Homo sapiens: one gene and its partners. The protein of the gene in region 2 interacts with the protein of the main gene of each other region in a biochemical or structural test. Each region holds a gene or a part of one and is shown on either strand. Other genes may lie near its edges.

The links.
Region 1: the proteins of TOP1 (region 2) and CDK8 interact in a test that uses a peptide from one of them, tested with the Homo sapiens proteins (one study listed by BioGRID).
Region 3: the proteins of TOP1 (region 2) and GRWD1 interact in a test that uses a peptide from one of them, tested with the Homo sapiens proteins (one study listed by BioGRID).

What each region holds. Positions count from the first base shown.
Region 1 is NC_000013.11:26,390,094-26,393,845, reverse strand, and holds part of CDK8 (cyclin-dependent kinase 8), read right to left. Parts: intron 480-3,752; coding exon 336-479; intron 1-335.
Region 2 is NC_000020.11:41,031,721-41,035,472, reverse strand, and holds part of TOP1 (DNA topoisomerase 1), read right to left. Parts: intron 1-3,752. UniProt on the Homo sapiens protein: Releases the supercoiling and torsional tension of DNA introduced during the DNA replication and transcription by transiently cleaving and rejoining one strand of the DNA duplex.
Region 3 is NC_000019.10:48,444,202-48,447,953, forward strand, and holds the start of GRWD1 (glutamate-rich WD repeat-containing protein 1), read left to right. Parts: upstream 1-1,781; 5' UTR 1,782-1,804; coding exon 1,805-1,991; intron 1,992-2,183; coding exon 2,184-2,301; intron 2,302-2,479; coding exon 2,480-2,642; intron 2,643-3,752. UniProt on the Homo sapiens protein: Histone binding-protein that regulates chromatin dynamics and minichromosome maintenance (MCM) loading at replication origins, possibly by promoting chromatin openness.

The DNA of each region.
Region 1 (3,752 bases), on a different chromosome or scaffold from region 2:
TATAGTTTCTACTGGTAAGAGCTAAAGGTACCTTTTTAATACAGATATTGAACATATTTTATCATTTCAAATACCAAATAACAAAACAAAAAAGTAAAACAAGATGAAACAAAAATACAGTCCTGAAATTCAGGAAACCCATAAATATTTCCATGCCAATATGTAAACTCTACAAATTTTGCTGTTTCTACGGATCTTTGATAAATGCAAGTCAAAAAACAAAGACTCAAGTAAAAGTAGCTTCCATCAGCTAAAAATATATACCTCTCCAACGAAGACATCTAAGTTCAAACAACAGTGATTTAAAAACAAAAACAAAAACGAATAATGTGTACCTGCAGGAAATCCCATTACATTGAATATTCTGTCCAGCTGGTCATGGTGATAAGGATTACTAGTTTTGATGTCCTCTTGTCGACAGTGAAATATTGGTTCTGACGTTAGTAGTTCTGCAAATATACACCCTATAGCCCAAATATCTTTAAAACAAAAAGAAAAAAAAAAAGAAAGAAAAATAGGCAAGGAAAAAAGAAAAAGAAAGGTGCAAAATAAAGTGGTTCTTTCCAAAAGAAAATGCAATTTTATTTTCTTGGGGAGTGTTTTTTTCTTTCTTTCCCTAATAACTCATATTAATTCCTAAGCAATTATAATTACTAAATACCATGAAACATTATTATAAGTATATATTCCCATGCCCTCCACCCCGATTTTTCATTCTGTATACCTCCATACCACCCAAATGGTTTCACTCTAAGCCCAATTAAATGTACTGGCTGGATTTTGGTGAGTTTTCAATGTCCAGGTGATACCTTTTCTGTGAACTACAGTAAAGCTGCATATGGAGCATGGGAACTACAACCAAAGAAAACTAAACAAAAACAAACGGAAAACCCAAACAGTATTTGAAATTGGGCACTCGCCTAACATAATCAGTGTAAATTTTTGTGATAAAATATTTTTTATTTTATTTACTTGCTAATTTGCAAGGTCTAATAATTACCCTCTCATGTTAGCACTAATCAGTAAGGTGGTATTCCACCAAGAGACAATGTCCGACCTCAAAACGCCTAAGAATTAACAGCATTTCTACTTTAACAAAGTTTTTTTTCCAAAGTGGTTCTTGATGCCATAAGCAGTATCAGATTTTGCAAATTTAAGTATTTAATGCAAAGGACAGGAAGCAAAAGCAAAATATTACTGTTAACATGGATTATAAATTCGGCCGGGTGTGGTGGCTCATGCCTATAATCCCAGCATGTTGGGAGGCTGAGGAGGACGGATCACGAGGTCAGGAAATCAAGACCAGCCTGGCCAACATAGTTAAATCCTGTCTCTACTAAAAATACAAAAATTAGCTGGGCATGGCGGCACGCGGCTATAGTCCCAGCTACTCAGGAGGCTGAGGCAGGAGAATTGCTTGAACCCGGGAGGCAGAGGCTGCAGTGAGCCGAGATCGCGCCACTGCACTCTTGCCTGGGCGACAGAGCAAGACTCCGTCTCAAAAAAAAAAAAAAAAAAAAAGGGTTATAAATTCAAATGAATTATTGACAAAAGCCAGGCAAATGGGTTTCTCTGTACACAACAAAGTAAATTCCTTTCATTCACAAGATACAGATTTACTTTCATTCAAATTAAATTTGTACTCAAAAGAACTATTAGTAGAGGTAAGATCTATTTGCCAATTTAGAATTTAAAGCTGAAAATATTTCATTTCTACTCTTAACAAATCCTAAACTAAGTACAATGGTGTGCATATAGCAGACCCTCAACACATGGTTTTTGACTGACTTAACCAATACCTGTGACAAATATAAATAACCAAAGGGAACAAATCAAAATTACTATTTTATCAAAGCTGATTGTTCAGATATGTTAATAACTGTCACTTAAACAGGAAATAAGAAAAAACCTAAAATGAGAATTCCTAAATTCCAAAACTGGAATAGAGATATTTAATTTAATCTAAAATTTCACATATTTACATTTCAAAGTAACAAGTTAATCACCTATTTACTTAAAGATTCACACTGACTGCAGCAAGTGATTTTAAAAAATGACATCGTATTTACATATCAGAGAACCAAGCCTAGCCAATACCATCATATGGAAAAGTCTCATCAAGAAACATAGGCCAACCTATTTTGTTTTTGTCATCGAAAGGTATATGGGAAAATTAATTATTTTGTGATTATTCTTTTTATATGGGTATACCCTATAAATCTAACCTTTGATAATCAATGGCCACATAGGCAGCTAAGTAGGATCACAAAAAGGGATGATGGATGGCTTTGCATGTTTAAAATTCTACTTACAGCACACCCAATAAACACTGTAACAATTCATCTGGTTAGTTATTAAAAATTCCAAAGAAGAAAATAAAATATGTAAAGGAAGATGAAAGGTAAGTAGTTTAGCTATAATTAAAGCTACACTGCTCTTAGCTGAGCATACTGGCATATGCCTGTAGTCCCAGCTACTCAGGAGGCTGAGGCGGGAGGATCGCTTGAGCCCAGGAGTTTGAATCCAGCCTTGACAACATAGCAAGACCCTATTTCACAGAAAAAATGTATGCAAAGCTACACTGCTTTTTAAAGAAAAAGTCCAGTCAACAGGAAAAATAACTTATTGAACCTTGCTTAACTCCCTCCCATCTAGTAACTCTTCTGTCTTTATAACTGCTATTCTCTCTCACCTTTGTCAATTTTACCATTCTTCCTTTCTTCAAAATCCTGACCCATACATTAATCATTAACTCTGAGTCAGCTGATCAGGCTATTATTGCAGATAAATTTCTAATTATTGTAAATAAGTTTCTTTTTCCTACCTTGTTTTTTTTTTTTTTTTAGATTGTGCCCAATTCATGGAAAGTCTCTTTAGTGTTCACCTGCCTGCCAAACTCCTTATAAAATGGCTTTCCAAATTAAAAACATATAAGTTTCATCTACTTCTCAAAATGTGTGATGCTTATAGGTAGCTACTGAGCTAACCAGGCAAAGGAAATAGTAGGAATTGGCATGCTATACAGACCAAATTTGGGAGGAGAAAAGACTTTGCTCAATAATATTTGAATCAACAAGTGTAGTAATAGCAAGCTTCTTGTTTTGATAAAAGGGAAGAAATTCTCATTTTCTCTATTTTAATGTGTATTTCCCACTTAGCAGAATGCCTCACATTTAGTGGCCATGCAGCTATTTGAGGACAAACACCTGAGCTTAAAAGTCCATACTTCAGTAAGACTTTTAGGACTACTTTAGTGGCACTGAATTAGAGATTGATATCCCTTTTTTTAGCCTTTTCCCCAAAGTAAATCAGACAAACAAAAATAAAAAACAAAACACTCAAAAGTGAATTAAACTTAGTTCCTGGGATTACAATGTTTACTAACCTATTATTTCCTCTCTTTGGTTTAGTGACTCAGCTTGCAGTTCTGCACAACGGAATAAACCAGCACAGCACTACAATCTGTTTGTAGTAGATGGGGCATATGTGAGTTTGATGCGTTCTGATCAGATTTTTTTCCCTATGCTTTTGCTCCTTCTTAGTAGCTTCGTAACAGATGTAACCCCTTCATTAAATGGAATGTATTCAGCAAATTATCTGTATGTTCAACTAGAAAGGCTCTTCTATCACCTGCTCACAATTCAGCTATCAAACAAGGAAGTCAAAATGCTGGGGAAGTTCTTGGTAAGCAGCTTTAATGGTGGTGTGAGAAATTTGTTGAGTATTTTAATCTTTAGGCTACCTCTGCAGGA
Region 2 (3,752 bases):
TCTTTTGTTGGAGCTTACCTAGGTGTTTCTTAGGAATGCTAATGAACTGTGTTCTTTAGGCTCCTTGAATCCACAGAAACAAAAATGTTAATTTCAAAGGCTCAGAGGGGAATTAATTGCCTGGTAGAGATGCCTCCCCACCCCAAATCTGATGGGAAGGGTAGAAGGGAGATGGTAAATTAAAACATTTATTACACATTTCAGAAAAATTTAGCAGACAGGTAAGTGAGTGAAACTAGAAGCTTAAGACAACAAATGAAAAATGAATACCTACCAAAAAGAAATTAAGGGTCAGGCACAGTGGCTCATGCCCAGCACTTTGAGAGGCTGAGGTGGGCAGGCTGCTTGAGCCCAGGGGTTCAAGACCAGCCTGGGCAACATGGCGAGAAACCTCGTCTCTACAAAAAATGCAAAAATTAGCCCGGCGTGGTGACATGCACCTGTAGTTCCAGCTACTTGGGAGGGTGAGGTAGGAGGATCGCTTGAGCCCAGGAGGCAGAGGTTGCAGTGAGCTGCAATCACACTACTGCGCTCCAGCCCGGGCAACAAACAGAAACCCTGTCTGCCCCCCACCCCGCCCAAAAAAAAAGTAAAGGAAAGAAGTTAAAATTAAAAGTTGCCTACCTTCCTTGGAATTTCTTTCTTACTAAACGTTAAGAGACATAAATGACACACATAAAGACAGTTAATACAAACTTCGATACAGATAGCCAAAGTTGATATTACGATCTATATACTCCAGAGATATGCATGAGATACCAGTAACATCACTTCTCTCCCAGTGTGAAAAATATCTAGGATCTTTCCTATACACACAGAAAATGTTCAACAATATCTATTTACTATTAAATCATTTCAGCAAACTATCAGCCATTTCTCATAACGCCACCAAAATACCATCAATATCTAACAGACATTCCTCTACAAGCTTCCCCGCAACCCCCAATCAAACTTTGTCCACCCTGCCCTCATTTACATCCCTCTCCACCCTTCCCAGGCCCTATGCTATCAACACAGCACATACTGTCCACATCTAGATAGGCAGGTGGCAGGGAGGGTGGGGGTTGGCAAAATGCTAATTATTCCAACCCTGGCCTCTATTTTAGATTTTCTACTGCAGCTATTGGCCTGGAGCCATGGGGATGGAAAGCTGCTGCTCAAACTTGAGATGTATGAGGCATGGAAATAGGGAGAAAAGACAGTTCCAAATATTACTACTCGAAGTTTAAACACAATCTGAAAGCTTCCTTTAAACACAATACCCATTCGCCTCTTAAGGACTAGTTTGGAAGTCTCTAAACTTTTTACCTTAAGAAATCCATGTGTCAACTGTTTGCCTAAATGCCCTTATTATCCAAAGTTAATGGTTTCAAAATAATTAAGGGATAGTCAGATAATCTAAACCATACAACACAGAAAATTCACTCAACTGACTCTCACCTCCACATCCAATATATTTTACTATTCTTTCAATAGGGTTTTTTTTTTTAAACCTCCAGGTCCAATGTCAAAATACTCATTTCAAACATTTCCACAGCTTCATTCAAACTAATTACATTTGAATTCATTTTCCCAAGCAAACACAGTTTACTGGAGTTCGACACAGTTTCACATGGGAAAGATGCAATCCCTCACAAAACACACTTCTGAGGAAACGACTTTGGATTTGAAGAATATCAGTTTTACTTTGCACTAAAAAGATGGCAAAAGGCAAAAGTTGATAATGATGTGTCATATAAATATGCATTCATGTCCAACTAATATGAAATAACATGGTTTTAGTATAATCTGAAACTTCTAAAATGATATGTATTCAGAAAGCACAACAGAATCATTTTCCATACCATTAGCAGCAGGGACAACTGTTACTATATAATTAATATACAACAAAGCTGTATATTAGAAGGCAAACATTTTTTTGCACCTCCCCACCCCACACATGCACTGAAAACAAGCAAAACAAAAAAACCTCACAGCCCAATTTTGGAATATAAACTTTAAGACATGTTATTTAATAATCTGAACAAACTAATGAATGTCTTTCCAACTCTCTCAATTCCCCATCTTTATGCTGACAGCAAGGGGAAAAAGTCAGACTCAATTCCTTTTTTTTTTTTTTTTTTTTGCTGCTATTGGTTAAAATGAGATTTGGGGACTGACCTTGGTTTCCTATTTTCCATTTTACTCTATCTACTGAACCAAAGAAAAGCAGGAGTTGGTGACCGTTACTGCTAGCTATATTATTTAGTTTGCACCTTTCAAGCCACAACGTATTTCTGATTCTTTTAGTGATGCCTGGATTTTCTTGTTTTTACTAGAAACATCCAATCCGAGCCTAAAATTTGTTTGTGAGATCTGATATGCTGGTAAACTAAAAAAACACATATTGACAAGCAACTTTCTTTTATGTCAAAGCATAGTATAAAAATCCTAGCGGCTCACTAATTCTAAAAAGGTGCCTCAAGGAGTCCAGTTGCAATGTAAGGGAAGAAAACCACCCTGGAGCATAATGCTTAAGTATTTCCTGATTGAGTCTGAGGATGCTGCAGATTTCATTTGGCGGTACCATCACTTTTCAGTTTTAAAAATGTAGTGGCAATTTTCAGATAGCCACATCATCAGCTATCTGAAATTCCCCCACCGCAATCAGCTATGCTACCGCCCATCCCAACCCATACCCAACAGACAGAAGTACAACTATCTATTAGCATCAGAAACAATTCATATTTAATTACCTTCATCCAATTTGATTCCATTAAGCCAACCAGAATCAGCACAAGATGATGTCAAACCATGATCCTATATATCACTTCTTAGACTAAAGACTGATGGAGCCAAGTATTGTGCTTTGCTAAGGGGGTCAAATGGGGGAGAACTCCCTATCTCCATAGCAGACAGGCAAAAACTTCAAGACCTCTGAAACAGCAGAAGAATCGCTAACACTTTAACCTGGTATTACCATTATCAATTCTACAGATAGCTACGCAGCCTGTACAGTACTGTAATAATGACTCAGCCCCACTACAGTTAGTTCTACCAATACTTAGGAAGTCTTTTCACTTAGACTTAGATATGGTTTCTGCTCCAAATTCCTAACTCACTGTCAACATTTTAAATATAAATAACAGAGTCTCCCAGCAGTTGAGTATGGGTCAGAATGTTCTAAATTACATGCAAAGAGCTACAATTTTAAATATTGCGAAGAATGAGCTCCAAAGTGGGGGGACGGGGGGGAATCTTTTATATCTTAGGGGATGAGGGCAGGCAAAATGAGAGACGTTTGATTTTAATATATGAACTTGTACAGTTAATCTGTAAGATGGGTTAGGCCCTCTTAAAATCACGCTTAAACAATCTCTTAATACAAAGTTCAATAATGACATGTCTGGGCATAATTAAACATTGATTTCTACTTTTTTTAAAGTTTTTTTCATAGTTACATAAATCAATCACTGGTTAACAATGTATTACTTGAGATAGCAAGCATAGTTACCAACACCACATCTTCCAGACAATATTCACAAAGAATAATTACACCAATGTCAGAACTTTATGGTGGCAGATTCTCTTCAAAAAGCATGTTTAGATAAAAAGCAAATGACAAATTATCAAATCCTTCCTTCTCTCCTTTTTCAGCTCTGTAAGAAAATAGAGATTTGTGGCTTTTTATTTTTTCATGCTAGTATCATATAGTATCACTCTAGCATAGTGGCTCAGCTCATGGGATTTAGAGTGGCCAACTCACAGCCCTT
Region 3 (3,752 bases), on a different chromosome or scaffold from region 2:
TTTAACGTCACCAGATGGGGCGGGAGGTGGGGGGTTCACGCCACTCCCGCGTCCCACCTCCACGCCCGGGGCCGTGGCCCCCACATCACTGTGCAGCTCCCCGGCCCCAGCCGCGCCTCCGGGGAAGCCCGTTTTTAACCTTTCATCCATTGGGACTCAAAACTGTGAGACGCGTTCGCCAAACTGTGACCCCAGACCTTGGCCCCGCCACACAGAAACCCCTGACCCAGACTGTGACATCCGACTCCTAAAATGGTCATCCGACTCCAGACTGTGACCCCTGACCCCAAACTGTGACCCGAACCCCAGACTGTGCCCCGACCAGACTGTGACCCTTGACATCAAACCGTGACACCCCCTCCTCCTCTTCCACCCTCGGTCGCTTTTCCCTACTCTGACCTAGGACACGTCCCCAACGGAAGCCCCGCCTTCCCTTGCACCGCGATGAACCCAACCTCCCTGAAGCCAAAACTTCCCACCCTGCCGCACCTCCGGACCACCCCACTTGCCACCAAGCACATCCTCTCCAAATCCAACCCTTATTTGCGACCCTTCAGTGATGACCCAGCAGACCTCCAAAAAGCCTCCTCTGCCCAGATCTCCAGCCGGGTCTGGGGCTGGGTTGCGGAGGGGAGGGTCTGGGAGTCCACACTTCTCCACCAACTTCCCTTCCCACTCTCTTATTCCACATTGCAGTGTTTGGAATAAACCATGTTTTTATGCCTCCTCAGTCCAAGCCTAAGCTCCGTATCTGTTAGCCCCCCTCAAATTCTCTGGAGGAAACAGAAACACAAAAGTCCCACAGGGGAAGAGGAGACAGAATTAGAGAGAGAACAGAGACTCTGAAAGGAGGTGCCTGGGGAGACAAAGACCAAGAAAGAGGAGGTGGGAAGAGACCCTGAAAAGAAAGTCGAGAGGGTACTGGGGCAGATAAGAGACCCCAAGAGAGTGGTGAGATAGATCCCGGAGACAAAACATATTAAGATCAAAGGTATGGTTTTATTTCCTATGGCTATAGGTACCAAGGCTTGCTACATTCTCAATATCCTGTTCATGCAAGCTAGGAGAGTGTCTGACATATCCCAGCCAATCCGCATTATCTTGAATGCTGTTAATCTCACCAATGAGAATCTATTTCTAACATTTCATTATGTCAATTAGCCAAACCGCTGGTGCTGATGGGCGATAAAGAGAGACGAAGCACTTGTAATAGCTGCCTCCAGAGGGTGGACTTTCTGATTAAGTGCTCGCTGACCAGAGCTGAAATGTGAATGTCTGGTTAGGCAATTGACTGCCCCTAGAGGGTAGATTGAACCGCCTAACTTACAGATAATATCCATCCTGTCTACAAGAAAGCATTTTTGAAACAAATGAAAGCCATCACAACAGAGAGAGGAAAAGAAACCGGCCTTATGGGTCCTCGGGGAGTAGAAACTCAGTCTCCTTGCCAGTGAAAGAGCAAATTTGCATATATGAATAATTAATTAACTGGAAAGAACGCTCTCGGAATCAAACTGGACAATGGGGAAAACAAGCCTCCCGTAGAACTACAACTCCCAGAAGGCCTTGCCACTACCGCGAGGAACAGCGCCCAAAGTCACGCGAAGATGCAGTTTCTCCGTATCCGCAGGCTTCTTTCGCTGGCGCCATTACCTGAGTTCTCCTCCAGCGTTTCCGCACCCTCTCCGATTAGCGGTCCCAGGAGTTTCCAAGGTAACCGCGCAGTAGGGCGGATCTCATTAGGCGGAAAGCGAAACCCGGAAGTGACGCTCTTACCGGGTGTCAGCAGCGAGAGGGTTCGAAGATGGCGGCGCGCAAGGGTCGGCGGCGCACGTGTGAAACCGGGGAACCCATGGAAGCCGAGTCCGGCGACACAAGTTCCGAGGGCCCGGCCCAGGTCTACCTGCCCGGCCGGGGGCCGCCGCTACGCGAAGGGGAGGAGCTGGTCATGGACGAGGAGGCCTATGTGCTCTACCACCGAGCGCAGACTGGTAGGGCTGAGTCCGGACTCCAGGGTCCTGAGGTGGCTGATCCCGAGCCTTTAACCTGAGAGGTGCTCGGGAAGAGAAGGCTGGGGTCTAAGAGAAGTGATTTCATACCGGAGGCGGTTGATCCATGAGGGAGGTGGGGACTGAGCTCTTACTGTCCCGTCTTAACTCGTAAACCCCGCCTTCCATCCCCAGGCGCCCCCTGTCTCAGCTTTGACATAGTCCGGGATCACCTGGGAGACAACCGGACAGAGCTTCCTCTTACACTTTACTTGTGTGCTGGGACCCAGGCTGAGAGCGCCCAGAGCAACAGGTAAGACCCGAGGCTTTTCCAGGACCAGGAGGCTCAGTTTCCAGCCCCTTCCTCAGCACCCAGGAGTTAGGGCTTCCAGTTTCTGCCTCTCGCAGATCCAGGAGTCTGGGTTTCCAGCCTCTCTCCTTCCTAAGAATCCTGGAATCTAGTGCCTAACTCACCCCACAATTTCTCCCAGACTGATGATGCTTCGGATGCACAATCTGCATGGGACAAAGCCCCCACCCTCAGAGGGCAGTGATGAAGAAGAAGAGGAGGAAGATGAAGAGGATGAAGAAGAGCGGAAACCTCAGCTGGAGCTGGCCATGGTGCCCCACTATGGTGGCATCAACCGAGTTCGGGTAAGTATGGTCCCAGGAGCCTGCTCTGCATACTCTGAAACACATCTGACCCATCCCCTGTGTCCATAACTCCCAACACCTCCTCATGTTCTTTTTTTTTTTTTTTTTTTTGAGACGTAGTCTCGCTCTGTCACCCAGGCTGGAGTGCAGTGGCGCAGCCTCGGCTCACTGCAACCTCTGCCTCCCAAAGTGCTGGGATTACAAGCGTGAGCCACCGTGCCTGGCCCATTTTTTTTTTTTTTTTTTTTGAGATGGAGTCTCGCTCTGTTGTCCAGGCTGGAGTGCAGTGGTGCGATCTTGGCTCACTGCAACCTCCCCTTCCCAGGTTCAAGGGATTCTCCTGCCTCAGCCTCCCAAGTAGCTGGGGCTATAGGCGCCTGCCACCAGGCCCTTCTAATTTTTTGTTTTTTGGTTTTTTTTTGAGATGAAGTCTTGCTCTGTCGCTTAGACTGGAGGGCAATGGCATGATCTCAGCTCACTGCAACCTCTGCCTCCCAGGTTCAAGCGATTCTCCTGCCTCAGCCAAGTAGCTGAGATTACAGGTGCGCGCCACCACGCCCGGCTAATTTTTGTATTCTTAGTAGGGACGGGGTTTCACAATGTTGATCAGGCTGGTGGTGAACTCCTGACCTCGTGATCCGCCTGCCTCGGCTTCCCAAAGTGCTGAGATTACAGGCGTGAGCCACCGCATCTGGCCAATTTTTTGTATTTTTAGTAGAGACAAGGTTTCGCCTTGTTGGCTAGGCTGGTCTCAAACTCCTGACCTCGAGTGATTGATCCGCACGCCTCGGGCACCCAAAGTCATGGGATTACAAGCGTGAGCCACCACACCCGGCCTCCTTCAGTTTTTAGAAAAGTACTTGTCACATAGTTTTATACAATTTAGCTATTATGATCAGTGTCATTACATGTTAGGTACTGTTTTAGATTATGAGGATATGGTTTATGTTCTTCACTTTTCTCTTTGGTAACATAGTGAGTTATAGAACTTATCTGATGGGGCTGGCATGAGGTCAAATGAAATAACATATAGTGCCTAGAATAGCACCTGGTTGTAATATGAGGTATGTATTTTCTGTTACTATTCAGGAACTGTTTTTGGTTGTGGCT